Linked DNA regions of Homo sapiens. The protein of the gene in region 1 purifies or fractionates together with the protein of each later gene. This does not show direct contact. Each region holds a gene or a part of one and is shown in the gene's direction. Other genes may lie near its edges.

The links.
Region 2: the proteins of INKA2 (region 1) and CEP128 purify together in Homo sapiens (affinity purification with mass spectrometry; 3 studies listed by BioGRID and IntAct, with this or other methods). This does not show direct contact.
Region 3: the proteins of INKA2 (region 1) and CDC42BPA purify together in Homo sapiens (affinity purification with mass spectrometry; 3 studies listed by BioGRID and IntAct, with this or other methods). This does not show direct contact.
Region 4: the proteins of INKA2 (region 1) and CDC42BPB purify together in Homo sapiens (affinity purification with mass spectrometry; 3 studies listed by BioGRID and IntAct, with this or other methods). This does not show direct contact.

Annotation. Positions count from the first base shown.
Region 1 is NC_000001.11:111,722,396-111,729,395, reverse strand, and holds part of INKA2 (PAK4-inhibitor INKA2), read left to right. Parts: intron 1-1,591; coding exon 1,592-2,428; 3' UTR 2,429-7,000. UniProt on the Homo sapiens protein: Inhibitor of the serine/threonine-protein kinase PAK4. Acts by binding PAK4 in a substrate-like manner, inhibiting the protein kinase activity.
Region 2 is NC_000014.9:80,497,576-80,504,835, reverse strand, and holds part of CEP128 (centrosomal protein of 128 kDa), read left to right. Parts: intron 1-7,253; coding exon 7,254-7,260.
Region 3 is NC_000001.11:227,028,401-227,035,660, reverse strand, and holds part of CDC42BPA (serine/threonine-protein kinase MRCK alpha), read left to right. Parts: intron 1-53; coding exon 54-190; intron 191-866; coding exon 867-1,006; intron 1,007-2,245; coding exon 2,246-2,327; intron 2,328-4,146; coding exon 4,147-4,363; intron 4,364-5,190; coding exon 5,191-5,253; intron 5,254-6,410; coding exon 6,411-7,004; intron 7,005-7,260. UniProt on the Homo sapiens protein: Serine/threonine-protein kinase which is an important downstream effector of CDC42 and plays a role in the regulation of cytoskeleton reorganization and cell migration. Regulates actin cytoskeletal reorganization via phosphorylation of PPP1R12C and MYL9/MLC2.
Region 4 is NC_000014.9:103,054,467-103,062,405, reverse strand, and holds the start of CDC42BPB (serine/threonine-protein kinase MRCK beta), read left to right. Parts: upstream 1-4,856; 5' UTR 4,857-5,232; coding exon 5,233-5,407; intron 5,408-7,939. UniProt on the Homo sapiens protein: Serine/threonine-protein kinase which is an important downstream effector of CDC42 and plays a role in the regulation of cytoskeleton reorganization and cell migration. Regulates actin cytoskeletal reorganization via phosphorylation of PPP1R12C and MYL9/MLC2.

The DNA of each region.
Region 1 (7,000 bases):
TCACTATGGCTTGGCCGGGGCGGCAGAGCCAACTGGGCTAAGAAGGCAGGAAGAGTGTTGAAGCCAAGTCTGAGAACAGCTGAGAGAGGACAGGTGTTTGGGAGGGAGAGGCAGGCTGAGAAGCGCTGGGTTTTCAGCAAACAGGAGTTTCCTGGCCTCCTTGTCTCCCTTCTGACCAGTCAGATATGAACAGCAATTGCAGGAAACCCCAGGCCTACCCTTTCTCTTGGGGAATCTGAGCTCTTCCTTTTCCACTAATGCCCTTTTCAGCCCTTCTTCACTGTCCTGTAGAGGACAGAGTAGCCTTAAAGTCCAGCTCTGGGTGCAGGCAGCACACACCTGTGGTCCCAGCTACTCAGGAGGCTAAGGCCAGAGGACTACTTGAGGCCAGGAGTTAGAGGCTGCCGTCCACTATGATTGTGTCTGAGAATAGTCACCACTGTGCTCCAGCCCAGCAAACAGCAAGACCCTGTTTGAAAAAAAAAAAAAAAAGCCTAGCTCCACTGCCCACTGCCCAGCCATCTCGAGTCTCGAGGTAGTACAGGAGGTTTGGGCATTCCTTATCTGAAATGCTTAGGGCCAGAAGTGTTTTGGATTTTGGATTTTCGAATATTTGTATATATACAATAAGATATCTTAGGGATGGGACCCAAGTCTAAACATGAAATTTATGTTTCATATACATCTTATACATACAACCCAAAGATAATTTTATACAATATTTTAAATAATTTTGTGCATAAAAGAGTTTTGACTGTGTTTTGGCTTCCGCTTGTCACATGAGGTCAGGGTAGAATTTTCCACTTTTGGTCACGTTGTGGCTCAAAAAGCTTTGGATTTTGGAGCATTTTGGCTTTCAGATTTTTGGAGTAGGGATGCTCAACCTGTATTTGGTAGTTAGGACTATGGCATCTGGAGTGGGACAGTACCGTGTTTGAGTCCCAGCTCTATGACCTGTGTGACGTTACGTAAGTTACTTCACCCCTTCCAGCTTACTCGTTTGTTAAAATGAGAAAATAGCAACCTCATACGGTCTATATAAAGATGAAATGAGATGAAGCACATAGAGTCCTTAGCACAATTCCTGTTACAAAGCAGATTCTCATATTGTTTTTTCCGCCATCATCACTGTCATCATTTCAGGGAGGCCCAGGGAGGAAGAGCGCTCAGACTCAAAAAAGGATGAGGATGGGCACTACAGCTTTGTGCACTTCAAGCTGATCTCAGCCCCACCTCTTACTATCTTATCTTGGGCAAATTACCTGTGAAATGGGAACAGTAATAGTCACTACCTCATAGGGTAGTTGGGGAGATGAAATGTCTGTGTGTGTGTGTGTGTGTGTGTGTGTGTGTGTGTATGGGGTGGGGGAGCCTTCTCAGGACAGTGCCTGCCTTAGCTAGTTAGCTACCATTATTATTTCCTTTACCCAGCACTGATCTGCACTGCACTAGGCTATAGAGAGATGGGGCTGGTGGCAGGCTGGATGACCCTGGAAGTGTATGTTTGGGTGGGGGACCTAAGTTCAGGGCTGGGAGAGGCACTGCTGCCCACTGTGGCTCATAGGCCCCATGCTTTCTCTCTCCCCTGCAGATGTCCATGAAGGAGGTGGGTGATGGCTTACAGGATCAGATGAACTGCATGATGGGTGCACTGCAAGAACTGAAGCTCCTCCAGGTGCAGACAGCACTGGAACAGCTGGAGATCTCTGGAGGGGGTCCTGTGCCAGGCAGCCCTGAAGGTCCCAGGACCCAGTGCGAGCACCCTTGTTGGGAGGGTGGCAGAGGTCCTGCCAGGCCCACAGTCTGTTCCCCCTCCAGTCAACCTTCTCTTGGCAGCAGCACCAAGTTTCCATCCCATAGGAGTGTCTGTGGAAGGGATTTAGCCCCCTTGCCCAGGACACAGCCACATCAAAGCTGTGCTCAGCAGGGGCCAGAGCGAGTGGAACCGGATGACTGGACCTCCACGTTGATGTCCCGGGGCCGGAATCGACAGCCTCTGGTGTTAGGGGACAACGTTTTTGCAGACCTGGTGGGCAATTGGCTAGACTTGCCAGAACTGGAGAAGGGTGGGGAGAAGGGTGAGACTGGGGGGGCACGTGAACCCAAAGGAGAGAAAGGCCAGCCCCAGGAGCTGGGCCGCAGGTTCGCCCTGACAGCAAACATCTTTAAGAAGTTCTTGCGTAGTGTGCGGCCTGACCGTGACCGGCTGCTGAAGGAGAAGCCAGGCTGGGTGACACCCATGGTCCCTGAGTCCCGAACCGGCCGCTCACAGAAGGTCAAGAAGCGGAGCCTTTCCAAGGGCTCTGGACATTTCCCCTTCCCAGGCACCGGGGAGCACAGGCGAGGGGAGAATCCCCCCACAAGCTGCCCCAAGGCCCTGGAGCACTCACCCTCAGGATTTGATATTAACACAGCTGTTTGGGTCTGAATCCTAGAGACAGAAAGTTGACTGAGCCTGAAAGGGCCAGGTCCCAGTGCTGGGCCCCTGGGGAGGAGGGAGGGTGGGCGGTATGGCTCTCGAAAGCCCAACTCCAAGTTCCTTTCCCCCAGAAAGCGGGGAGAAGCCAGAGTTCTTGGCTCAGGACTGAAGGGAAGGTGGTTGGGAGAGGCTGTCTTGGGGGCTAGCTGGTGGAGGAGGTAAGAGTAGCTGGAGAGTGAGCTGTGCGTGTGTGTGTGTGTGTGTGCATGTGTGTGTCTGTCTGGCATGCATGCACTCACTTTGGGGCTGGAGGTGACAGTAGGTGAGGGCAGAGGAGGAGATCAGAAAATCCCTCTGACATCTCCACTGCCCCCAAAGACCTCCGTTGAACATTCTGTATGGAAAAGAGCCCTGGAGCATCAGGTTCCCCAGATAGGCCCCCAAATAAAGACCTGTCTATGGCTCTCCCAACCTTCTGTCAGCTTCTTTGGCAAGACATTGCTCCAGGCACAGGGACTGAACCCCAGGCCTCCTGGGACTGGAGCAGCAGTGAGGCAAAACCCGACCTGCTAGCCCTTTCTGCCTTGGAGGTTTCAGTCCATACCTGGACTCTGAGAAAATGAGCTGAATAAGGAGTACAGTGTGTAAGGAGCAGCCAGGGAAGCCCTAGACACTCCCCGCGTCTCCCCCATGCACAGGGGAAGGATGTTGACATAGCACTGGGCTGTTTGAATGCCTTTTCATCTCCATGGTCTCATTTGAAAGTGAGCGAGGCAGGCAGGCATGATCCCATTTTCCAGATAAGGAAACAAGCCTAGATATGCTACATGTCCAGGAACAACTGCAGCCAGGAGGCAGAACAGCCTAGGTCTAACTGCAGAGTAGAAGCTGGACCCTGGAGTTACCAACACTCCTCCCCAACAGTTCTTAGCACCCCGCAGGCTGGGCGCTGTGGCTCACGCCTGTAATCCCAGCACTTTGGGAGGGCAAGGCAGGCGGATTACCTGGGGTCAGGAGTTCATGACCAGCCTGGCCAACATGGTGAAACCCCGTCTCTACTAAAAAAATACGTAAAAATTAGCCAGGCGTGGTGGCACACGCCTGTAAACCCAGCTACTTGGGAGGCTGAGGCAGGAGAATTGCTTGAGCCCGGGAGAGGGAGGTTGCAGTGAGGCGAGATCATGCCACTGCACTCCAGCCTGGCTGACAGAGCAAGACTCCCCTGTCTCAAAAAAAATAAAAAAAAACAGTTCGTAGGGCCCCATACCCCACAACCCCTGTCTCCTGCACTTAACTCCCACCTGGGTCAGAGAACAGCCAATTCACCAGTGAGGTAGAAGTGAACCCAGAAGAAATAGCCACTTGATTTTAAAATTCCCAGCTCCATTCCGTGGCCTTCTCCCCACTAGACACAGCAGTCCCAGGCCTCCTGTTCCCTCCTCACCTAGAGGCAGCCGGGACGGAGGGGGAAGGGCCAGGCAGCAGCTCAGCTCCGGCTTCTCTAAAGCCACTCTGGGCACGTGGCCCAGGAGGGCCACCTAGTGATCCAGGCCCCCCCCCAGGACTGCCCTGGGAAGCCACTGTCCCTCCCACTCCAGTAGGGAACACTCACTGGCTGGGAAAAGACAATGTGGATCTTCTTTTGGGCTGACCAAGCCAGGAGGGCACACCCTCCCACTGCCCCTCTCTGCCTCCCACTGATTGTCCCTCAGCCTGATGGGGTGTGACAGCTGCAATTAGAGGCAGGATTCCTTCCCACCCTCAAAGCATTAATAGCCAGTTGGAGAGGCAAAATAGTAAGAAAAGGCTCTTCTGCTTGCTTCCTGGATCCCTGGGGAGAGTGGAGAGAGGGGCAGAGCTCAAGATGGGATTATGGGGGCGCAGCCGCGGTGGTTAGGGTCACTCTCAAATCCTACCCAGTCAAATGGTAAGATGTTTCATTTTTGGTGGGGGAGCTGCAGGAGGGAGGAAGGCGCTCATGCTTTTTGGGTTTTGTTGAGCACTCACTGTCTGTCAGGTAATGTGCACATCTCTCAAACTTAGAAGGACCCTAGAAGGCATTGTTCTCCAGACACATCTATGGAGGTTATTAGGGGGCGTGTAAACTGCCCCGATTAGGCTGCTAGCAAAGGAAAGGACAGAGATTTGAACAGAGGGTTGGGTTATCTGGCTCCAAAACCCCTGTCCTTTTCTTGCTATTTCTCTACCTGGAGTTTGCCAACTGAGCAAGCCCACTCTGGTGGAGCCAGCCACTGCAAATCCTTTGTGTCTTCCCAGAGAATACCAACATTTCAGTTTTGAGTGAGGGAACGTTGGCTCTGACTGCCTTTGGAGGTGGAGATGGTGGAGGTGGTGGTGGTGGTGGTGGTAGTGGTGGTGTGTGTGTGTGTGTGTGTGTGTGTGTGTGTGTGCCTGCGCGTGCTAAGAAACTGCATGTTAAGATTCCACCTACTGAATCATGAGCGGAGGAAGTCGTGGGACACTGGCTGGTGGAGAAGCCATCTAGCATATTATTCAAGATGACACCAGCTCCAAGTCTGGAATGAGTCTGTGGGAAACCAAGGTACTTCTTGGACATTCACCTATAACTCACGTGTTTCGTGGACTGGTCACAGTGGTTCGGATAAATTGAACAGAACTTTATGAACACCTCCCAGCACCAGGTGTTGTTATAGAAACTAAGAACAGAGCAATGAGAAGGACCCAACTCCTGCTCTCAAATGGATGCAGTGGAAAATAAGCAGACTTTGAACCATTGGTTAGTCAGAAGAGACTTGGGAGACTGAAAACTTGTTTCAACTTGGGCCAGAACAAAAAATTAGGAAGCAACACTTGCTGCCAACATGATTTACAAGTGCCAGCACCTTCACCTCTGTTACTTCCTTCTCACTACACACTGAAAGCAGTTGCTCTTGTTTTACATGGACAGGCTCAGAGAAGTTAAGCAACTTGTCCAAGGTCACACAGTAGTGGAATTGAGATTGAATCAGTTCCAACTGACTTGCAATCTTGTGCTTTTCAGACGATCCCACTAATTGTCCATATCTGTTCCAAAGCCAAATCAAGAGGAACAAGAGCAAAATCTGTCCTCTCATATTATTCATGGTCCTGCGTGGATCATAAATGGCATGCTGACTGTCTGATGGAGACTTACTTTTCCCTTCCCCCTGGACACCTGCCATGGCAATGACAGAGGCTGTATTTTACTGAAGTGGAGGGAAGAGGTGAATGCAAATGCCTAGGGCCTAAGTATACAGGAAGGTGTAGGGAGAGGTAAGCAGTGTGTATGTGGAGGAGATAGCAGACGTAAGCAGAGAGAAATCAGAGAGCTTAGTTCTTCCTCTGGGGCGCACTTTGTGGTTAATTAGGACATGCAAATGAGCTAGAAGCTCATTTAATATCCTCCCTGACATGTAGCCCCACCCCACCCTGCCCCACTTCCCTGGCAGGTACAAGGGCCACCTGATTGGCCCAGGTATCTGTGGAAGGTTCCACCTGCTTCTTTGTGGCCCAGGGAACAGAAAAGAGTCCCTGCTGGGCATGCTAGTGGGGCCGGCCTGGTCTCCCTCCTCCCTTTCTCTTCCCAACCTTTCAGACTTGGGACCTCTCTTTTCCCTCTCCCTCAGACACTTCCCTTGTGCCCCGCCCCTCAGGGTGATCTCTGAACCCAAACTTGCCCCAAAGAAGGTTGCTCTGTCCTCTCCACATCCCCATCTCCTCCCTAGGGCCTTGTTGGGGAGAGGCTCCTCCATCTTTCCCAAGTCACACCATCGTTTCCTACGTGGTCTGGACAAGAGCAAGAGCACACCTTGTCCCCACCTTCTCCAGAGCAGCCAGAACCCACCTCAGGTGCCTTCCCCATCCGGTGCAGTTAAGGCACTTCTGCCAGCACCATGGTATGAGCACTAGACTTGGAGTTAAGATTTGAGAGCCCCCTCTGTCACTGTGGAAGCTTGAGCATGTTGCTTGATCTCTCTGAACCTTGTGTTTCTCATCTGTGAAAGGTGATAATGTGGGGCTGCTGTGAGATTTAAAGGACATAATGCACCTACGGTCCAAGCACTGCCTGGAATACAGCAGAAGCTCAGCAGATACTGGACAACCCATCCCCTTAGTAGAGGCACTAACCATGTGACCCAAGGCAAAAGTGCTTAAGAAAAAGTGCTTTCTCTGAGCGTTGGTCTCTTCTTCTGTCGAAACATTTATATTGATTTAATATCTCACAGGATTGTAGCAAGGGTCAGAGAAGACAATAGGTGACATGTTTTTGTACACTGTATACTAGCCACCCAGATGGGCTGTTATTTGCTAAATGGCAAATTTACACTGTTCCCCAAAGGATGACATGCACTGGGGAGGCGGGGGGTGTGGAGGTGGAGAAAGGCTGAGCTTGGAGAAAAGGTGCTTGAGGACCCCACTGCCTAAGGACCTGCTCTAGGAAACATTCCCACTCCCTACACCCTAGCTGCCCCTCACAGTCAACCCTTAAGGACCTCAAATTCTTGGCAAGGGGTAAAGAGTTGAAAGTGCCAAGTCCTAGTGGTTTTGAGAAGCCTCTGGTCTGCTCTTTCTGCTCTGTAA
Region 2 (7,260 bases), on another chromosome or scaffold:
CAGTATATGATAGTAATATTCATAAGTCTGAGAAAATCCTCATGAATCATACAAAAAATGTTCAAGGATATTCATAATAGTACACAGTTTACTAAAAATATGTAGAATCCCTCCTTTTTAGACTTTACGCTTCTCAGAATAACTTAAATAACCACCCAAGGTGAAAATCTTAATTAGGCAAATTTTTCGTTTGGAGATTGCCAGTAACTATGGATGAATGAGTAAAGAAAGTTATTTTATAATAAAGTTCAAATTATCAAAAAATTGAAGTTCTTTGCATATAAATGTTGAGAAATATGTAATCTTGTACAAAGAGTAAGAATACTATTACTGCTAGATTTCACTCTGTGAATCTTGATAAATGTCATCATCAATATCAACAATGTATGAGTCCATTGGCCCAAAATGCCATCTGCCACGATCTATCCCTGCCGTCTCCCTTCCTTCCTATATGTGGTCTTCAAGTTTCAGCTTATATGTAATTTCCTTAAAGAAGCTTCACAGTTTGAAGTGTAGTCTCTGTTATGAGCACCCACAGTGTGCTACAATTTTTCTTTATATCTTGAGGATAGGAGGAGTGCCTGTTTTGTTCACCACTGTTTCCTTGGCACTCTATATAGTAGTTGGCAAATAGTAAATACTCAACTAATATTCAATTAATATACATATAAGTTGTTTTTGTTAAGTCCACATTTATCTAAACTATTGGGATCCAAATGTTATTTAATGGATTTTTATTTAGGTAATAATTTTGCTCTTCAGTTTACCATGGGCCTGTAGGGTTATACATTAAATTTGATAATTCTGTCATTTAATATAGCTATATTGCTGTAAAATAAAATGCCAAAATAAGCCACTAGGAAGTAGGTCAAATCCAAAGGTGATAACTCTTATTTTTGCTGGTTTATATTCATGGATTCATTGAATAAATATTTATCGATTTCTGATAAGTGGTGTGGTTTTTCATTATTTCATGATTATTTTAGTCTAAATGCTGAGCATTTTGTCTTCCTGTCCTAATCATTTTCCCAAGTGATTTTGTATCTACATAAGCCAAGAACCACCCTTCAATATGGACCTCAAGTTGGTTATGGCACCTCAGAATTTGATATACACATAGGCCAAATTTTTTTTCTTTCATATTTAGCAATGGAAAACTTTCTCCAAGTCCTTCTAATATAAACAAGCATGGAGGTGGAAGTAGGGACTTCACACCATGAAACATCACAGTGTCCCAATTAGTCAGACATTCAAGAGCCTGGAGATAAACAGCATCATAATGTGAAAACAGATTGTTATACTGCTGTTACTTTTGCCATTATGACCTTCATAAGCCTTTCTAGAAATGCACCTAGAGGGAAGTGGTTAGAAGACATTAAATGGAAAACATCAAGATTTTGGAATTGTATTTAGTACTATGATAGGCAGTGAAAGAACCTGTATTTAGGTTTCAACACTAGCATTTCATGACCAATTGTGGTCATTTCTCTAAGATATATTTCTCACAAGCAACTATAGGTTTCTATAGATATACACTGGCTGAAAAGGAAATAAAGTTAAATAGGAAAATATATCATCAAGAGCATAATTTGAAAAAGAAAACATTTATTATAGTTTACATTGTAAAATCTAACTGAAAAATTTAACCTAAAAAGTAAAACTCTTCATTAGTTTAATTAATTAGTAAATTAATTAACTGATTAATCCATAGTCTTGTTTTACTATTTTTCTTGTGTACAAGTTTGTTTTATGATTTTCTTCCCAGACCTATCCCCATATTTTCAAAAATACTTTAAAAAATTTAATCCTAGCTACCTTATCATTAATTACTTTCAAGTAATTGAATTATAATTATTTCTAGAAAACATTCTTATTTGCTTTTCTGATAAGCCTTAAGTTTTCTGTTTTTAATAATGGGGCACATTAGCAGTGAGAAACATTAGGATTACCCTGAATACTTCATTTTTTGTAGCAAAATTTCAGCTCAGTTACAGAAATTGTCCTGTAATTTTTCTTTAATCTCCCTTTAAATTGAAGAATTAAAAAGAAGAGATGAGACCAACAAAGAGGAAAACAGAACTTACGGCAAATGAGTAATACAGGGAACAGAGGATGTTTTAAAGAATATCATTAATACCCTTTGAGAGATAAGAGAAAATATTAAATCCACTACATTTAACAAGAGCAAAATACTATGAAAAAGGGACACAGACTAAGCGGTGTCAGAATTTTAAAATATGATTGCCATAAAGAGTAAAGAAAACCAGAAAGGTGGAAAACAATGTGAAATAACCACAAAGAAAGGAGAAGAAAAAGAAAAAGAATGAGACAATAGAGAGAAAAGATAAAATTTTTAGAAAAGCAATTCAGGAGGGGCAATAGATGATTCATGTGCGTCTTGAGAGAACAGAGAAAACAGAACAAGAGGCCAGGAGTGGCCAGGCCCACCCAACAAACACCCACTGCACAGCAGCCATCCTGAGATTGTCCTTCACTCTTTTCCTATATTGATGCCCGTGTGCCCAGATCCTATACCTTCCTCTTTCTTGTTTCACTCTTTTCTTTTATGAGAGTAATGCAGGACAAGCAAGCCCCAAAATTGAGGCTTAGTCCTTGGCTTCACCCAGGGAAGAATTCAAGGGCAAGCCGGTGGTGTTAGCAGCAGTTTTTATTGAAGCGGCAGTGTACAGCAGCAGCAGAGGTCCTGCTCCTTGCAAAACAGGCCTACCCCATAGGCAGTGTGCCCAGAGCAGCAGCTCAGAAGCAGTTCTGCACTCACAGTTATAACCACTTTTAATTATATGCAAATTAAAGAGCAACTTATGCAGAAATTTCTGGGATGAGGGTGGTAACTTCCAGGTTGTTGGGTTTTCGCCAGGAAAATGGCGACAGGTGTGTCGTGTTGCCGTGGCAATGATAAACTGACAGGCACACTTGTGGACGTGTCTTATGGAGAGGTGCTTCTGCTTGAGACCCATTTTAGCTAGTCCTCAATTTGGGCAGGTGTCGAAGCCCTGCCTTTGGAGTCTAGTCCCACCTCCTACCTCAAGAGCACACCAAAGAAAAGGAGGTGGGAGGCCGAGGTGGGCGGATCGCGAGGTCTGGAGATCGAGACCATCCTGGCTAACACGGTGAAACCCCATCTCTACTAAAAACACAAAAAATAAGCCAGGCGTGGTGGCGGGTGCCTGTAGTCCCAGCTACCCGGGAGGCTGAGGCAAAAGAATCGCTTGAACCCGGGAGGCGGAGGTTGCAGTGAGCCAAGATCACGCCACTGCACTCCAGCCTGGGTGACAGAGCAAGACTCCATTACAAAAAAAAGAAAAAGAAAAAGAAAAGAAAGAAAGAAAAGGAGGTAAATATTTTTAGTGTTTGTATTTCTAAAAGTAGATTTATTCCATTATATAAAATTCTAGTTGAAAATGATTTTCTCTCTCTGAAGTCATTGAACAATTATCCTCCAAAATCCAATGTTGTTGTTGAAAAATCCTTCATTCGTAGATAAAGACTGTCACTCCTTTGAAGTCATCTTCTGCGCCTCCTTCCTACCCTACCACATCCTTTCTACTCCTCGCTCCAGGAACTTTTAGGATCTTCTCTTTCACCCCAGTGAGTTTGTGATGATGTGCCTCAGTGTGGGTCTTGTTTTATTTATTCTTCTAGCTACTTTTTATCTGGACACTCATGTTTTTCAATTCTGCCACACTGAAGGAAGAAAGGAAAGATTCTATCCAGAAAATTTGCAGGAAACAAACAAAAAGCTAATAGATATCTGATACGATTGAACACTTAAAAAAAAAAAGACTACTAGTGGACATATGGCAGATCTAACTGAGCACTTAGAAGCAAGATGGTCACAGAGAAAGAGCAAATAAAAAGAAATAAAATTAAAACAAGAGTCAATTAATAAACCCAGGAGGAAAAAATGAACAAGAAGAGAAATGTCATAGTATCCTTACTATGTTTTCATGAGCCATATTTAGTCATAATAATGTAAACAGTCATATAACTAAAAGCTCATATGTAACTATATTGGGAGTATGGGGTGAGGAGAAGGGGGTGGGTGTGGATAATGTCTAAAAATATAAATCAGAAAATAGCAATATAGGCTTCTCCATGTTTTACAAAAATGAAATAAATACAGAAAATAAAACTGGAAGAGGTGATCATAGCTGACTCTGGGGAGTGGGATTGTGGAATTCAGAGAGGTAGGACAAGAAACTCCTGTTTTTCTATGTAACCCTTTGGTATTATTTGATATGTGTATATACACTGGCTAAAAATGATTCTTACAAAGACAAGTGTTACTGAGAAAACCCCAGCTTTAATGTCTGACTAGTAAATGTCTAATTTTTTTGTTAAGTCTCAGGTGGAACATGAAAGCTGGGGTTTGGAGTTTGGAGCAGTTTAGATCTGTATAGAGATATAGGGAGTGGATAGTCATAGGTCCTTAGGCAGACATGAGTTTCTGGGCCCACAGAACAGTCAGCTCCTTACTCTAGTCAGAATTTGTACTGAGTGAGGCCCTTTCGTTGAAGCTGTAGATGCTAAGGCATTCATTCTGCTGACTTAGATGCCCTGTCAAACTGTGACCAAACTAAAGCATAGAATCATTGACCGTGGAAAAAACAAAGGAAATGGGAAAATACTGCATAATTTGTGGTCTCTGAAGTGATCCAGCATTAATGAAAGTTTGTTTTAAGAAGTAATTTATGTCAGCTTTGTGTAGTTCAGGTCAATTCAAGAAAAGGTAGATTCCTTCTGCCAGGAAGAAGGGAAGAAATGTATAAATTGTAAGTTTATATTGCCATTGGAAATAGGAACACAGAAATCCATTATTTAAAGGCATGATCACTACCAAATTTATCCTGGCCTGCTGGAAGTTATGGCCGTGAGTCAGGACACTCTTTTAGAAGACTTGGATTCCATTACCTTCAGCCTGTAGACAGTGGGGGCTTAGTAAGGGACTCATAATGTCAGCTTTTGAAACTGTCATTTTTGCTTTTCAAAAGTGGCAACTGACCACTAGTCACTATGTATAGCTCCTTTTAGACTAAAGGAACACAACTCCAGGATACAGCCATCACATCCCAGGACTGGGACCAGACCAGATTTCACTGAGGTCCATAGTAATCTGATGACTTCTAGAAATCTCTAGTTTTTTAAGACTAAAATGTTTCATCTTTGTGGAGTTGGTGTCTCCAAACCAGATTTTAAAAATAAATGCAGATTGTAAATTTCCTGTAAATCTAAAACTGTTTGAAAACATAATGTTTGTTAAAATAAATAAGCCCAAAAGGAAGGAATTGTTATTCTTCATGGGGAAAATATGTTATCTAAGGATTAGTATAGGAGTTGAAAGTGAATCTTACAGATAATTTGATATTCTTAGAAAAGCAGATTAATGAAAGATGCTTAAAAATACTATTTCACTTTCTTACCTCAGTTTACATTGCTATAAAAAGAAAAGTTAGTATTCTCACTTTGTGTTTTGAGGTGCCTCTAATGGTAGTTTAAGTCCGTGGGGTGAAAAATAATTTATCCACAGCAAGAATAGCACACTATTTTCACTTCTGTGTTATACTTCAAGGTCTACCCGGCTAACTGTGAAAAGATGCTTCATATGTAACCTGTCCTCAGCCTTATAGAGTAAAATGCCAAAGATTAATGGCAATGAAAACACTAGGACACTGATAAAGGCAATAAAATTGTTTCTTGTCCATTAAAGGATTTAATTCTATGAAAGTGCAGTCTCTCTGTCTCTCTCATTTTACAGGTTTATTTTATGTGATTACAGATTTATTTTATGTGACAGTGGTTCAGGTATTTTTTACTGATCGGTTAAACGCCGGATATTTTTAAATAATTGAATTCTGGTTTTTGCAAGTTGACAAGGTACTCTCTAGAGGCGCTCCAGAAACCAGCTAGAAAATCCCCAGTTGGCTGTCATCTTAAAATCCCTCACCTATATTCAGTTGTTCAACCAGTATTTACTAGGAGGCTGTGTACCATGTCCAGTGTTCAGTTCTGGAGTATACAGCAGTGAACAGGACAGGCAAGGTGATGTCATGGAGAAACAAGTAGCGAGCAAGTAAACAAATCATTTAAAATGGTGATTGGTGCTATAAAGGTGAAATGATAGAAGGTACCAGGAACAGGAGCACTCCTTTAGATTGGTGATCAGGATCTGCCTCCCTGAGGAGGTTACAGCTGAAACCTGAATGGCAAGAAGCAGCAGCTGAGTTGAAATTGGATGGGAAGCATCTTCCTGATAGTAGGGGCAAAAAGTACAAAAGCTCCAGAGAAGAAAGGGCCATGGTCTCCTAGAGATACGGGCTACTGAGCGAGTGAGTGAGAGGGTGCAGCCACAGTCAGATGTGTGGATTTTATTCTGAGTTCACTGGGCGACCATTAAGGGCAGGATGAGGGAGTCATGCAGGAGAATGACGTAATTTGATTGACTTTTCCGAAAGGTAACTGTGGTTGTGGTGTGGAGAAAGGATCGTAAGGGAGCAAGAAGAAAACAGAAAGGGAGACAATGGTGACTTGGGGGCTGATGAGAGTAATGGGGATGGTGTGAATCAGGACTCAGGTGAAATTGATAGGGAGAGTCATTAGAGCTCGCTCTTAAACTGAATGGATGGATCAGACAGGACAAAGGAAGAGAGGAACCACGGTTTGAGAAACTGGGCAGACGGGTATATCATTTTTCAAGTTGGAGAAGAGTAAGGAATGAGCAGGCATCAGAGAGTAGAGATAAGGAGAGAAGATTTCACACAGACAGTTGGATATAGGCATCTATAGCTCAGACGAGGAGTAGGAGATAGTAAAAGAACAGTAAACACAAACTCCAGGTCTACTTTCAATAGACTAGAAGTTGTAATAAAGAGGATTCCATAAAAAGGAGCCCTTAAGATTTCTGCCTCTAAAATTCTTTGCGAGTGTGCAAGTGTGTGTGCGTGTGCACGTGCACACCGGTGTGGTTTATATCATTGTATCCTGACGAAGCACACATTTTTTACTCTCAGGTATTCTTCAAATAAAATAAAAAGTTTAATTCTCGTGTTTTTTTTAAATGTCATAAATTGAGTGTATTTATTCTTAGCTTGGAGGTCTGTTAGTCCATGTGAAGTTTAATTATAGAAAACTCGATCAAATACCATGATACATTAACTACCTTCTGCAAAATTAATTTTTTAGGCCAGTTTTATATTCACCTAGGTTTATTTTTCTTTTTCTTCTTACCTTGCCAGCATTTAC
Region 3 (7,260 bases), about 120 Mb from region 1:
TTCTTTTTGTTAAAATGAATTTTTATCAAACGTTTCTTTTTTCCCTCTAAAAGTGTGTGGATTCTCATGCCATATAACTTGTGTAAACAAAGCTCCAACCACTTGTCCAGTTCCTCCTGAACAGACAAAAGGTCCCCTGGGTATAGATCCTCAGAAAGGAATAGGAACAGCATATGAAGGTCATGTCAGGGTAAGTATGATTAAGTTGGGTTTAGATTAATCCTTTAAGATTTATTAATGAATTAAAATCAAATCCAGTTAGTTTAAGAGGATAGTTCTTGATGGAAAATTAAATGAATAAAATTCATCTAATAATTTTATTTCATCTAGAATAATGATTTGCAAACAAAAACCTAGCTTTTACATGGAAATAAGTTATAAAATGTCTCAAGTTTTTCCATATTGTTCCTATCTTGTGATGAAATCTTCATAAAGGAGTTTGTGGCCCCTGCTCTTGCAAGAGAGGTGGCATATGGTTATGAATTATGAGCTATTAAGGCATAGTCTTGTTATCTTGGGTAGTATTTACAATGTAAGCTGAACTTCATCTTACACCAAGTTTGACTTTTATGCTATTTAGAAAGAAACCCATGAGTGTTATTTTAATGAAATATGAGTGAAAGTTAAAATGGTACCATTAAAATGTTTCTCAGAATAAAAAGTCATTCTGTATTTGAAGAATGTGTTCTCACATTTTCTCATAGCTTAATGATATGTGTCTCATCTGCTACTTTACCAACCAGAATGGCAGACTTATAAAACGTGTACATTATCTGTAGGTCTTCACCATGCAATTACATATGTAATTTAAGGGATATTTTCATTTGAGTTGTTTTGGCTGTTTGTCTGTCTAAAACAAAACTAAGATTCCTAAGCCAGCTGGAGTGAAGAAAGGGTGGCAGAGAGCACTGGCTATAGTGTGTGACTTCAAACTCTTTCTGTACGATATTGCTGAAGGAAAAGCATCTCAGCCCAGTGTTGTCATTAGTCAAGTGATTGACATGAGGTAAGAGTTTGAAGGTAAAATTATTTGTATCATTGCAACATAGGAATTTTAAAGTTTCTGATTTTCAAAAATTGTGTTGCCATGGTTTATTTAAATGAACTAATTTCGTATTTTCTAATTTGCTAATATTGCTATAGAAACAGAATTGAAAATAGGAAGTAAGGTGTATTTATAGGACAGGTTGGTATGTGTGTTGAGTGTGAGGGGCTAGGAGTTAAGGAAAAAGAAGTTGGTGTCCCAAAGACCTGTGTAAATGGGGTAATGGAGGCCTACCATGTGAAGTTTATATTATCACATCACCTAAAGGCTTAGAGTATAATTTCAATGTGAGGAAAGAAAATAAAAATCAGAAAGGCTTCTGGAAAACATAATCAGTAAACATTTAAGTAAGTACAGCCCTTGAACACTTCTGGTCTCATTTTTCAGATTCTTCCTGTGTTCCTTAGTTCTCTCTCCTTTACCTTTTCTCCTAACTCCAGGCACTATCCTTGAGTGATCATATTTACTCACAGCTTCAGCCATCTCCTCTGCATTGATGACTCCCAGACTTGTATCTCCAGTTCAGATATATCCATCCATTGCTCAAAACCGGAATTTCTAGCTGTGACTCAAATTGGCACTTCACATTGGCATCTCAAACGCATTATCTTCCCCTACAAATATGGAACATGACAGGATAGATGCAAGAAATATTGGCAAGAAAAATCTGATAGAACCTACTAAGGGACTGAATATAGATAGGGAAAAGAATCACAAATAGGACTAAGGTGTCAAGCCTGTAAGACTAAGGGAGTCATGGTACCAACAACAAAATTAAGGGAATCACAAGAAATTATTGTGGAGGAAATACGTTGTAGATGTTGAAGGAACAATAAAATATAACATGAGCTGGGTTGAGGGTACTTAAGATTTATTATGGGAGGCAAGAGGGTCCACTGGAGGCTCCAGAGACCTACCAGGGTTCAAATCCCAGTTCTACGTGTATACTTAACTGGCCTTGTGACTGTGGGTAAGCCAGCAATGATTTCTAGCTCTTGTATAATGTGCCACTAGGAAGTTATTCTTGATAAATTATTTGGGGCACTATTAATTACAATGGGGGAAAATTAATTTTTTTAAAAAATTAAATTTGGGTGTTTGGTGCAGTTAAGCTTTGGGTATGTGTTATTTGGATACACACCCCAAACCACACACACATAGCCACATATAGTAACTTTTAATGCTTTGCTTTTCGTTCAGGGATGAAGAATTTTCTGTGAGTTCAGTCTTGGCTTCTGATGTTATCCATGCAAGTCGGAAAGATATACCCTGTATATTTAGGGTAAGTGTGTATGCTGTAATTTGATCACTGAATTATGTGTTTTTAATGAGTATATTTTGCCTCCCTATATAAATCATAAATTCACTATAAGTAAAACCAAATCTTATATTCTTTTATATATTCCATATCATCCAGTACTTGAAGGTATAGAAAATTGGTGCTAAGTATTTAATTAGTGAAAGACCTGGAGAAAGCATCAATATATGGCTTATAAAATATGCTTCCTGGTAGATAATATTTTTTAGTTCCAATTCAATTTTTAAATAAATACTACCACATGGAAAATTAGATAAGTGTGAGGTTTCTCAAGTTTTTAAAAAAATAAAAATGTCTGTCTTGAAAAATTAATGCGTTTGTTACTTACTGCTTTGTAACAGCCATTCCAAAACTTAGTAGCTTAAACCAACAGTGATTTACTATTTTTCACTATTCTGTGGACCAGCTGTACAGTTCTTGTGGTGTCCGCTAGTGTCACTGATGTGACTGCATTCAGCTCATTTGGGACCAGAACATCTAATGACCTTGCTCTTACATCTGGGTGCTGGCTGTTAGCTGGGTGATCTCAGTTCTCCTCTTTGTGAACTCCCTCCATGTGGTCTCTGGTCGTCAGGTAGGCTGGCTGAGCTCCCAGTGGCTGGCTTCTAAGAGAGCAAAATAAGCTGCCAGGCCCTTTGAGGACTAGGCCCAAAACAGGTATAATAACCCTTCTGCATTCTGTTGGTCAAAGCAAGTCATGAGGTCAGCCCAGATTTAAGGGGAGGGGAAATAGACTCCACCTCTTGATGAGAAGAATGGAATTCCTTAGGAGGACTTGTTGGTAGGCGTCTTTGGAGGCCCTTGCCACGATGCAATCTTGAGTGGGTAAATTAAGACAATAGAGGTTAAAAAAAAAAACTACTGCCCAATTGTTATGCCTATCTCCCTATATTTGTCTATGAATCTTGTATCTAAGGAAGGTCAGGCAAAGATTATACTTAGTCTCTTAGTTCCCAGACTGACAACTATTTATTTTCCTCCCAGCCACCAAGGGAGCCTACAGAGGCCCACTTATCTATAACTGATTTTCATAGTGTGAGTTTATTGTCACTGCTACTTAATAAGGAATTCTTTACTTATGATAAGGAATTCATATAGGTAAAATTTAAAACTGCTCTGATAGTGTTGTTTGTATAATGATAAACCTTCATTTAAATATTAATTTAAATGGTCAAATCTTAATGATAATGCGAGTTATTGTTGTGAAGTAACAGAGAATATATTTCTGAGCACTTCTGACCTTAAAACAAGTCACAAGTCAGTATGGTGTGGCGCTTAAGAGCATGGGCACAAGATCCCAGACTTGTAGTTGTATGTCCTTGGAGAAATGATTTAATTTCTTTGCATCACCATTTTTTTCATATATAAAATAAGGATATAATGACAGTACATCCTAAATCATGACGATGTTAACAGAGTTAAATGAGTTAATACTTGTAAAGTGCTTAGATCTACCTGGTGCTCAGTATTTACTCAATAAATGTCAGTTGTTGTTGTTGTTGTTATATATTTAATGCCTCTTTAGTGATAGTGTTCTGGCACTTTTACAGAAGGAAAATGAAAATGATACTAACATTTCAAATGGTGTCTGCCACCTTTGCTTTGTCATGTATTCTAGTGCTAAAGGTAGTTATTCTGATTAGGAATAGCTGAACTCCAGTAATGGTATCATTTAATGAATGCTTATTTTATTGGTGAGTGCTAAGCAAACTAACATAATCATGAAACTAGCATAAAGGGTGTCTGTTTTCTAATATCATGAATATTGATTAAATTGTTCTAGGTCACAGCTTCCCAGCTCTCAGCATCTAATAACAAATGTTCAATCCTGATGCTAGCAGACACTGAGAATGAGAAGAATAAGTGGGTGGGAGTGCTGAGTGAATTGCACAAGATTTTGAAGAAAAACAAATTCAGAGACCGCTCAGTCTATGTTCCCAAAGAGGCTTATGACAGCACTCTACCCCTCATTAAAACAACCCAGGCAGCCGCAATCATAGGTATGAATTTATAACATTTATCATATTATTATCATTGTTTACTAATCTACCTTGAGAACAGGGATTGGCTTTCATCTAGGAATCCCCAGTGTCCAACATACTGTGCATCATATCATAAATGCTCAGTACATGTTTACTGAATGAATGAGACCTATATCAGATCTTTGTTTTTCAGTAAACAGGAGTATAAATACACTTTCAAAGTGCCTTTTTTTTCCTGAAAAAACAACAGTGCTAAGCATTAGCCTACTAATCTATTTTCTGCTTGTGTGATTTAGAACAAGTTAGTTTCTTAGAGTTTAATATATAAAATACAGATGGTAATTACCTTGCTGAGGTTATTGGGAAGTTTAAATAAGATGGAATACATAACACAGAGTGCCCTGCATAAGAAAGAAATCCCCTTAACAAATGGCAGTTTCTGTGTCTGGAGGTTTAAATTTTTGCTGTATTCCTGTGTATGCATCTAACTCTTTTGTTACTTTCCATAAATACTGAAAAGTTCAATGAGTATGGTTCAAATGCCATTCACAATTTTTACCTCCCAAAACAATAAGTGTAGAACAACTTAGGTTTTTCATTTTGTTTCATCATTTATTAAACATTTACTTCTTTTTGTAAGTATTGATATGGATTATTCTTTAATAATTGTTCTATTTTAGAAGACATGAGAGATTTACCAGTATAATCTGAAAGGAAATAGTGTAAACTGTTATTGTAATTCATTTTATTTCCATTTTTTGCACCAAATGTTCTTATCATCTGGTTTATTAGCATTACATGGTTTTTTTCCTAATAAAAATCTTTCACATTCATGTCTTACATAGATCATGAAAGAATTGCTTTGGGAAACGAAGAAGGGTTATTTGTTGTACATGTCACCAAAGATGGTAAGAGAAAACTTTTTTTTTTTGGAGTAATTTTAAATCGTGTTAAAAAAATTTAAACTGTAGATTCTAAATTCTACAAAGAGCAGGATTTGCTCTTATTTATCCTGCGACTAAAATTTTCCAGACCTAATTTGACGTTTATAAATTAAAAGATTATTTTTAAATTTCTATAATCCCCCTGAGGTTTAAAACTTCAAATATGTATTGTCTTTCTTGTATCATTTTATTTAACAGTTCTGTACGAACTCAGATTGCATTTCTTTTTTTTTTTTTGGAGACAGAGTTTCACTCTTGCTGCCCAGGCTGGAGTGCAGTGGCACGAACTCGGCTCATTGCAGCCTCCGCCTCCTGGGTTCAAGAGATTCTCCTGCCTCAGCCTCCCAGTAGCTGGGATTACAGGCATGCACCACCACGCCCGGCTAATTTTGTATTTTTAGTAGAGATGAGGTTTCTCCATGTTGGCCAGGTTGGTCTCGAACTCCCAACCTCAGGTGATCCACCCGCCTTGGCCTCCCAAAGTGCTGAGATTATAAGCATGAGCCACTGCGCCCAGCCCAGATTGCATTTCTAAAGATGGAACATGAAAAAAAATATATACAACTTGATTTTCACATTGTTCTATTAGTACCAGAAGAGGCAACAGCTATTAAAATGTGTTTGTTTGGAGGTTTTTCTTCTAGGGAAAAACTAAATGCTGGGTGAAATAAAGAGAAACCAATATAACTTGGTATTCATAAATACAGTATTCTAAGTTTTATCTTTATGTCAACTTAGATCATGGGAAAACAATGCATTGTTAGCCATATAAAAACTTCTGAAAAATAAGTTCTCTGTTTTTAAAAATGGGAATCCTATGGTGACGTTCCCTAGAATTTAGTGCCAGTAGAAAAGTTTCCTTGAAGATTTGGCATACTTTTACACAAGAATCCTTTGGGGTTTGCCTTGGCTGCCAGAAATCTCAGGACTCAAATTTAATACGTACTATAGGTGAGTTAAATTATCTTATGATGGGTTGGATAATCTTTTTTTCCTGTGACTTCTGATGTCTTATTCTTCCGTATGTGCATCTGTAAGTTGACTTACATCCTTTTGAGTATAATTGGGATATGATTAATCAATAAAACTATATTTTGATTTATTATTCTTTCTGTGTTTAGAAATTATTAGAGTTGGTGACAATAAGAAGATTCATCAGATTGAACTCATTCCAAATGATCAGCTTGTTGCTGTGATCTCAGGACGAAATCGTCATGTACGACTTTTTCCTATGTCAGCATTGGATGGGCGAGAGACCGATTTTTACAAGCTGTCAGAAACTAAAGGGTGTCAAACCGTAACTTCTGGAAAGGTGCGCCATGGAGCTCTCACATGCCTGTGTGTGGCTATGAAAAGGCAGGTCCTCTGTTATGAACTATTTCAGAGCAAGACCCGTCACAGAAAATTTAAAGAAATTCAAGTCCCATATAATGTCCAGTGGATGGCAATCTTCAGTGAACAACTCTGTGTGGGATTCCAGTCAGGATTTCTAAGATACCCCTTGAATGGAGAAGGAAATCCATACAGTATGCTCCATTCAAATGACCATACACTATCATTTATTGCACATCAACCAATGGATGCTATCTGCGCAGTTGAGATCTCCAGTAAAGAATATCTGCTGTGTTTTAACAGCATTGGGATATACACTGACTGCCAGGGCCGAAGATCTAGACAACAGGAATTGATGTGGCCAGCAAATCCTTCCTCTTGTTGTAAGATTCTCTTTCTTACGGCTGTCTTATCTTTATATCTCTTCTTCCTTTTCCCTTCTACTTCGTCTCCCAAATGTTGTCATTGTTGATAACAGTTTTTTAAAAAAGTCATTCTTAATGCTTTTCCTCAGTATTGATTATGTTGTTGATGTAAAAACCATATGTAGTTAGGCCTGGGCAAACAGGGCCAGCATTAGCATGCACGTAATTTAAACAAAACATCTTTCTGTGGAATATTTCACTAAGATGGATTTTT
Region 4 (7,939 bases), on another chromosome or scaffold:
CATGACTCACTGCAGCCTTGAACCCCTGGACTGAAGCCATCCTCCCATCTCAGCTTCCAGAGTAGCTGGAGCTACAGGTGCATACCACCACACCTGGCTGATTACTGTCCTTTGATGCCTGATTTCTAGTGTCATGAAAATCCTTGTTTTAAGTGTTTTGTCCATTTTCTTTCTCTTTTATTTTCATTGTTTCAGGTAAGAGAGTAAATCTGGTCCTGATCACACCATCTAGGCTAGAAGCAGAAATTAATTTGCTTTTTCTTTTTGAGGCAGAGTCTTGCTTGCTCTGTCACCCAGGCTGGAATGCAGTGGTGTGATCTTGGCTCACTACAACCTCTGCCTCCTGGGCTCAAGTGATGCTTCCACCTCAGCCTCCCAAGTAGCTGGGACCATAGGCACACGCCACCACACCTGGCCAATTTTTGCATTTTTTGTAGAGACGGGGTTTTGCCACGTTGCCTGGGCTGGTCTTGAACTCCTGAGCTCAAGCAATCTGCCCGCCTTGGCCTCCCAAAATGCTGAGATTAACAGGCATGAGCCACTACACCTGGCCAAGAGAAAAGGAAAATTTATTGTTTCATGTAACCAGATCTCTCTCTCATTTTTCTCTTTCTTTCTCTAACAGGTGTTGTGGCTGTTGAGCTGAAGTCTCACCATCATAGCTTGTGTTGTAAAGCAAGGAGCAGCAAGCTACGGGTCTGCAGGCCAAATTTAGCCTGCTGCTTGTTTTGTAAATAAAGTTTTACCGGCACACAGTCATGCTCATTTGTTTCTACATTGTCTATGGCTGCTTTCTTGCTATAATGGTAGATGCAGAGACTGTAGGGTTCATAAAACCTGAAACATTTACTCTCTGGCCTTTTACAGAAAAAGTTTACCCGCCCCTGGTCTAAAGGAAAGGACAAGAAATTCTCTCTCCCAGTTTTAGTATGAAACATTCTTTTTATTTTTTATTTTATTTATCATTATTACTATCTTTGAGATGGAGTCTTGTTCTGTTGTCCAGGCTGGAGTGCACTGGTGCAATCTCTGCTCACTGCACCCTCCGCTTTCCGGGTTCAAGTGATTATCCTGCCTCAGCCTCCCAAGTAGCTGGGATTACAGGCATGCGCCACCATGCCCCGCTAATTTTTATATTTTTAGTAGAGACGGGGTTTCACCATGTTGGCCAGGCTGGTCTTAAACTCCTGACCTCAAGTGATCCACCCAGCTCGGTCTCCCAAAATGCTGGGATTACAGGCGTGAGCCACTGCGCCCGGCCTTCTTTTTCTTTTTCTTTTTCTTTTTGAGATGGAGTCTCGCTCTGTCACCCAGGCTGGAGTGCAGTGGCGCCATCTTGACTCACTGCAACCTCTGCCTCCTGGGTTCAAGTAGTTTTCCTGCCTCATTCTCTAAAGTAGCTGAGATTACAGGTGTGCACAACCACACCCAGCTAATTTTTTATTTTTATTTTTGGTATTTTTAGTAGAGACAAGGTTTCACCATTTTGGTCAGGCTGGTCTCGAACTCCTGACCTCAAATGATCTGCCCGCCTTGGCCTCCCAAAATGCTGGGATTACATGTGTGAGCCACCACACCCAGCCAGTATAAAACATTCTAAATAAGTTATCTGCTGAGGGAGCAAGATTGTTTGAGACCAGGAGTTCAAGACCAACCGGGGCGACATAGCAAGACTCCTTCTCTAAAAAAATTTTTTTAAATTAGCCAGATGTGGTGGCATACACCTGTAGTCCCCACTACTGTGGAGGCTGAGATGGGAGGATTACTTGAGCCTGGCAGTTCAAGGCTGCAGTGAGCTATGATTGTGCCAAGTCACTTCAGCCTGTATGACGGAGCAAGACCATGTCTCTAAAAAATAAATAGATAAATGAATACATAAACAAATAAGTTCTCTGATTGGCCTGGCTTCAGTCACATGACTGAAGGGGGATGAAGTGCTGCTAGGGTCTTGGGTCACATGTCCACCCTGGTGCCAGCCCCTCTAGAATCCTATGATCAGAGTGGAGCTGGAGCACAGACTCACAGGGCATGGGGCTCAGGAGAGAGAGAAAGCGAGGGCAGACGAATACAAGGACTGTCCACCAAAGGCACGATGACCTTTGTTGTACATTTGTAAATGTATAAGAACAGTAAATGGAAATTTCCAGGAGGCAAGAAGAGAGAGCAGATGTGGAATTCTCAAATGCTATGTCAGATCGCCATGGGCAGATTGTCAAGAGAAATGTTTGGGAATCTGTCCCACACTCAGGAATAAAAGATGAGAGTGGAAGAGAAAGTTTGGTCAGGTGATCCTGCCAGGGGACACAGAGGACAGGCACTCCTTCCTTCACTTTAAGCCTGTGAGGGTGGCTTCCAAGGGATTTCTCAGAGAGCTCAATATTTGGCACTCAATTTGGAGGGCACAGTGGCAGGAAGGGCTCATGTGCTGTTTCAGAGGCAGAGCTATGCTGCTGTGCTGGGACCCACCTGTTCACTAATGTTGGGGCGAGGAGTGTGCCAGTGTTTCCTGAGGACAGATGTGAGCTGGGTGGATGAGCAAGCACAAGACCCATGGATCCATTTAGGTCCTGTCCAAAAGTCCCTCAGGAAGGGCAGAGGGCCCCTCCCCTCCACAGCCACCAGGTAAGCATCCACCCAGTGGCACATCTGCTTGAGTTAAGGGGACTTCAGGAGACAAAGCAGCAGGGAACCACCGAGGAGCCCATGAATGTTCCCAGGAGAGACAGGGTCAGCTTTACCCTCTGCCAATCCAGATGGGATTGGAGCCCTTCCCCACTTCTCCCTTTCTCCCTTCCCGGTGGTGGTTCTAGATGGGTGGAAGTGGGCTGAGCGAGCCGAGGGAGGTTTGGGGAAGGAGATGGCACCAGGCACAGCCCCCTTTCCCCTTGCTCATCTCAGGCCCTAAGGGGTCCAAGGGGGAAGATTTAACTTTGATTTTGAGCCAGGTGATCTGCTCAGACTTTTTAAAAAAAACTTTTAAGGTGTCATACACAAATAGTAACATGCAAATATTTAGAATACAGTTTGATGAATTTATACACATTTACAGACCCAACGTTACAAAACGGCTGTGCTGAAGATACAGAATGTTCCCAGCCCCCTAGAGGCCTCTCCTTGTGCCTCCTTCCAGTTGATACCCCAAAGGCAACCAGTACTCTCACCTCTAACGCCAGATTGTTCTCACCTGCCTTTAAGAAATGAAGGTATTATATATACATACACACAGTGACATGCACTCATCTTAAGAAGACAGTTTGAAGAATGTTTACTTATGCGTGCTCCCATGTAACTACTACCCAAATCCAGGCATAGAACATTACCAGCAGCCCAGAAGGTTCCTCCTCTTGTTCCAGTCAACAACTCCGGCATAGGCAGCCACTCCTCTTCTTCTTCTTCTTCTTCTTATTATTATTACTATTATTAAGACGGAGTCGTGCTCTGTTGCCCATGCTGGAGTGCAGTGGAGCGATCTTGGCTCACTGCACTTTCGCCTCCCGGGTTCAAGTAATTCTCCTGCCTTAGCCTCTCGAGTAGCTGGGACTACAGGCGCGCGCCACCACGCCCGGCTAGTTTTTTGTATTTTAGTAGAGACGGGGTTTCACCGTGTTGCCCAGGCTGGTCTCGAAGTCCTGAGCTCAGGCAATCCGCCCACCTCGGCCTCCTAAAGTGCTGGGATTACAGGTGTGAGCCACCGCGCCAGGCCCACTCCTATTTTTAGCTCCAGAGATTAGTTTTGCTTCAGGCTCCCTTAACGTCCTGCTTCAAACCCCTATCTGCCCCTTCATCGGCTCCACCTGGAGGCCACCGCTTCCACGGAAGCATGACCCCTTCCCCTGCACCCGCGCGCCCCAGAAGCTCTCAGATACCCCCACGATTTCGGTGACCTTCCGCAAGCTCCAGGAAAAGCCCCTCCTCTCCTGACGCCAAGGGTTTGTTGGGGTTGGGGGGTATCTCCATCAGCCTCCCTCCCCCAGCCACCCAAATTAACCAACAATCTTAGTAAATGCAGCGACTCGCTAGGCAAACCCAGCCTGGAGACAAATATCCGGCCCCTTTCCTACCAAACTGTCACACCTAGGCATTGGTCTGCAGGGAGGGCTGGACAGTGGAAACTGAAACCCTCTGCAAGCCATCACGAATCCACCGGGCACTGGGGACGCTGGCTCCCGCCTTGGCAGCATCCCCCAGAAGCCTGGGCCCTGACCCCACACCGTCTGGGCCTCAGTCTCTCATCGGTAAAGTCAGGGGTAGGGCCCGAGTCTTCCAGGACCGCTTCGAGCTGGGACAAGCCGTTTTAAATAGCCCACAACCCGCCGAGGCCATCAGAGCTGCGCCTGCCGGGCCGCCCTCGACCCCCACCTCGGCCGGGCAGGTCCGAGGCCCCGCAGGCAACATGGGCCCGCGGACTGCGGGACGGGGCTCGACGGCCTGAGATCGCGACTCTGCCTCTCCGATACTTGGGGTCGTCTTCGGCCCCGGGATCCGCGACGCGCGCGGTCGGACCCCGAATACTGAAGGCACCGGGTCCGCAGGGCGAAGGCGCACACGCCCACCAGGCGCGCTCTGCGCATGCGCGGGCTCCGCAATCTCAGCGGCCCACTCGCCCCGCCCCGCCCCCCCCACCCCCACCCCGCGCCGCTCCCCAGGCCCGGCCCTGCCTTCCCAGCATCCCGGCTCCCTACGGCAAGCGGCGAGGCCCGAGCCCGCCGGGAGCAGGGAGCCGGGCGCGGGGCGGGGCGGCGCGCTGAGGTCAGCGCGGCGGCGGCCGGCCCCGTAGTGGTTGGCTGCGCTGGTGCTGGCCGCGCCCTGGTTGGCTGCGGGCCGCGGGGCTGGGCCGCCGGGTCGGGGCTGGGGTCGGGCTCGGGCGCCGGCCGGGCTTGCGCAGCGCTAGGCTCCTCGCCGCTCCTAGTCTGCGGCGGCGGCGGCGGGGAGGGCGCGGCCGCGGGCGGGGCTGAGGGCGGCGGGGGCGGGCCGCCCGAGCTGGGAGGGCGGCGGCGCCGAGGGGAGGAGAGCGGCCCATGGACCCGCGGGGCCCGGCGCCCCAGACTCTGCGCCGTCGGGACGGAGCCCAAGATGTCGGCCTAGGCCGGGGCGCGACGACGCGGACGGGGCGGCGAGGAGGCGCCGCTGCTGCCGGGGCTCGCAGCCGCCGAGCCCCCGAGGGCGCGCCCTGACGGACTGGCCGAGCCGGCGGTGAGAGGCCGGCGCGTCGGGAGCGGGCCGCGCGGCACCATGTCGGCCAAGGTGCGGCTCAAGAAGCTGGAGCAGCTGCTCCTGGACGGGCCCTGGCGCAACGAGAGCGCCCTGAGCGTGGAAACGCTGCTCGACGTGCTCGTCTGCCTGTACACCGAGTGCAGCCACTCGGCCCTGCGCCGCGACAAGTACGTGGCCGAGTTCCTCGAGTGGGGTAAGTGCGCGCCGGCAGGGCCGGACCTGCGGCTCTGCGACCCCCGCGCCCCAGCCCGCGCATCCCCACGCCCGCCCATCCCCGCCCGGACAGACCCTGCCGCCCTCCTGCCCACCCAGCTCGTGGGCTTCGCCTCCTCTCGCTCTGGCAGCGCCCCCAGGCCCGCAGCCCATCTCTCTCCAGCCGCTCCTTGCACCCTCGTCCCTCCGCTAGCTTTTCATCCCTCCTTGCCCTCCCTAGGCTCGACATCCGCGTTCGATCGTCCCGCCCCCTCATCCTGCCCCTTGGAGCCACATCCTACGTTCCCACTCCCACCCCCTCCCCCCCGCCGGGCCCTCGCCCTGGCGGCTTCCTAGATCCACCCTCCGAGTCTGGATATCATTTCCTGCAGCACTCACTGGGATATCCGCCCCCGCCCCCGCCCCCGCCCCCGCACCTCGCCTTTGGGGTCCGGAGGCAGTGTGGAATTAGTTCCCTTTCCCCACCCCACGCTTCTCTGCGTTGTGGGGGCAGCTGGGTGTGCTTTCTGCATCTGCCTCGCCCACTGCCCCGTGGGACCCCCTTGCATCCCCAGGGAGCCCAGCTCTAACGGCCCCTCCTGGGTGACAGCCTGTCTACATCCCCTTGTTGGTCAGAGCCTGAATACCTACTTTGCTGTAACACCTTCAAGGGAATTTTAAGGTTAAGGCTTTATTTTAAATAAACCGTGCAAGAGGACTTTTTTTTTTTAATTCCAATTCTGCTAGACCTTTGTGATATTTGGAGGGGTAGCTGGAGCTATCACTTAGAAACTTTCTCATCTGAATTTTGCATGCCTTCTCTAGTTCGTTCCGGATCTATAATGTTTTAATCATTGGTCAGCTAACCTATTATGCTTTTTTAGGACAAAAATTTGATTAAACCATTTAACGATAATTAGGATCCTAAAGACAGGTAAAAGTGCAGCGTGAAACTCTTTTACTTCATCTCTCCCTAACGGGTGTGCCGGTCAAGACCCTCAGACTGTCTCACCTAAAACCACTGAGTAGGAGGAGGAAATGCGTATGTTCAGGCCAAACCTATGAAAACCTTATCCTTGGGTCATTTGCGTCACTGGGCTAGGACTGTTCAGTTCGAACCAGTAATTTCTAATCTTTGGGGCTGATAAAGCTGATATTTATACGAAGAAACAAATGAAAGTGTTCCACAGTGAGGCCTCCAGGCCTCCTACTCTACTCTGCCAGATTGGTGACTGGAATTTGGAATTTTGTTTACAAATAAAACTTAAGTTGCAATATTCTTTAGAGGGCTTCTGTTGGATTACTCTGTAGTGAAATGTTACACGGTATCTTGTGAGAGCAGCAGTAGAAAGAGGTCCTGAGATCAAGGACAGCCTGTGATGCTTTATTTCCGTGGGAACCACCATTCTTGGTTACTTATAGTATCAGTAAATTAAGAGTATTTGCTTTCTAGCGTCCTTTGTCAGTGACACGATTTCCAACTGAATAATTAATTGACTTCACCGTTGCTTTGAAAGTGAGGTCTTTGGTGCATGTTAAAATCTGAATATTTTGTTTACCTTTTCTTTCTTTTCTTTGGAGACGAGTCTCACTGTGTTGCCTAGGCTGGAGTGCAGTGGCATGATCTTGGCTCACTACAACCTCCATCTCCTGGGTTCAAGTAATTCTCCTGCCTCAGCCTCCCGAGTAGCTGGGACTACAGGCACGCACCAGCATGCCCGGCTCATTTTTGTATTTTTAGTGGAGAAGGGGTTTCACAGTGTTGGCCAGGCTGGTCTTGTACTCCTGACCTCGGGTGATCCACCTGCCTCGGCCTCCCAAAGTGCTGGGATTACAGGCGTGAGCCACTGCACCCAGCTTGTTTACCGTTCCTTTCTGATCACTCGATCTTGAAACCCACACAGTTCCACTGTCAGGTTCAACTTGGTGCACCACCTGTGAGTGTGACTGGGAAGAGGAAGCAGAGGGAAAGTTGGTTTTGCTGGGAAGATGTGGTCCCACTGGCCTCTGGCCTGGGACCTAGAAGATTAGTCTGAGGGCGGGGGCCCTGGGGGCCATTGTGCAGCCACCTCTCTCCACCAGGCATTACTGGTGGGCTTCCCTGGAGGAAGCTCTTGTCAGCATGTGTGGAGGTCATATTTTATGAGATCTGGCCTTTCCAAATCTAAACGGGAACTGTGCTGTAACATAGACATATTTTCAAAGTTGTATTCTGGCTCTTTGGAAATTGTGATTACAAACTACATTATTCTCAGGAACTCAGTTTGCACAAAAGTATAAACTTTCAATTATAGGGAAGAATGGACTTAGAAGGTGGTGTTTTAATGAAATATCAATATATTTTACAAGTATTTAAACTCATTTATGTTAACATATACGTCATTGTAACTCTAAAGTGGTGTATTTCTAGTTAACATGTGTGCAGTTAGTATTTAATGTTGCTTGGAATTGCCTGGTTGTTTCGATTGGAAAGCACAGAATAATGTTTTTGAATAAAACTATTTATAGAGCAATATTAGGTACTCTAACTTCC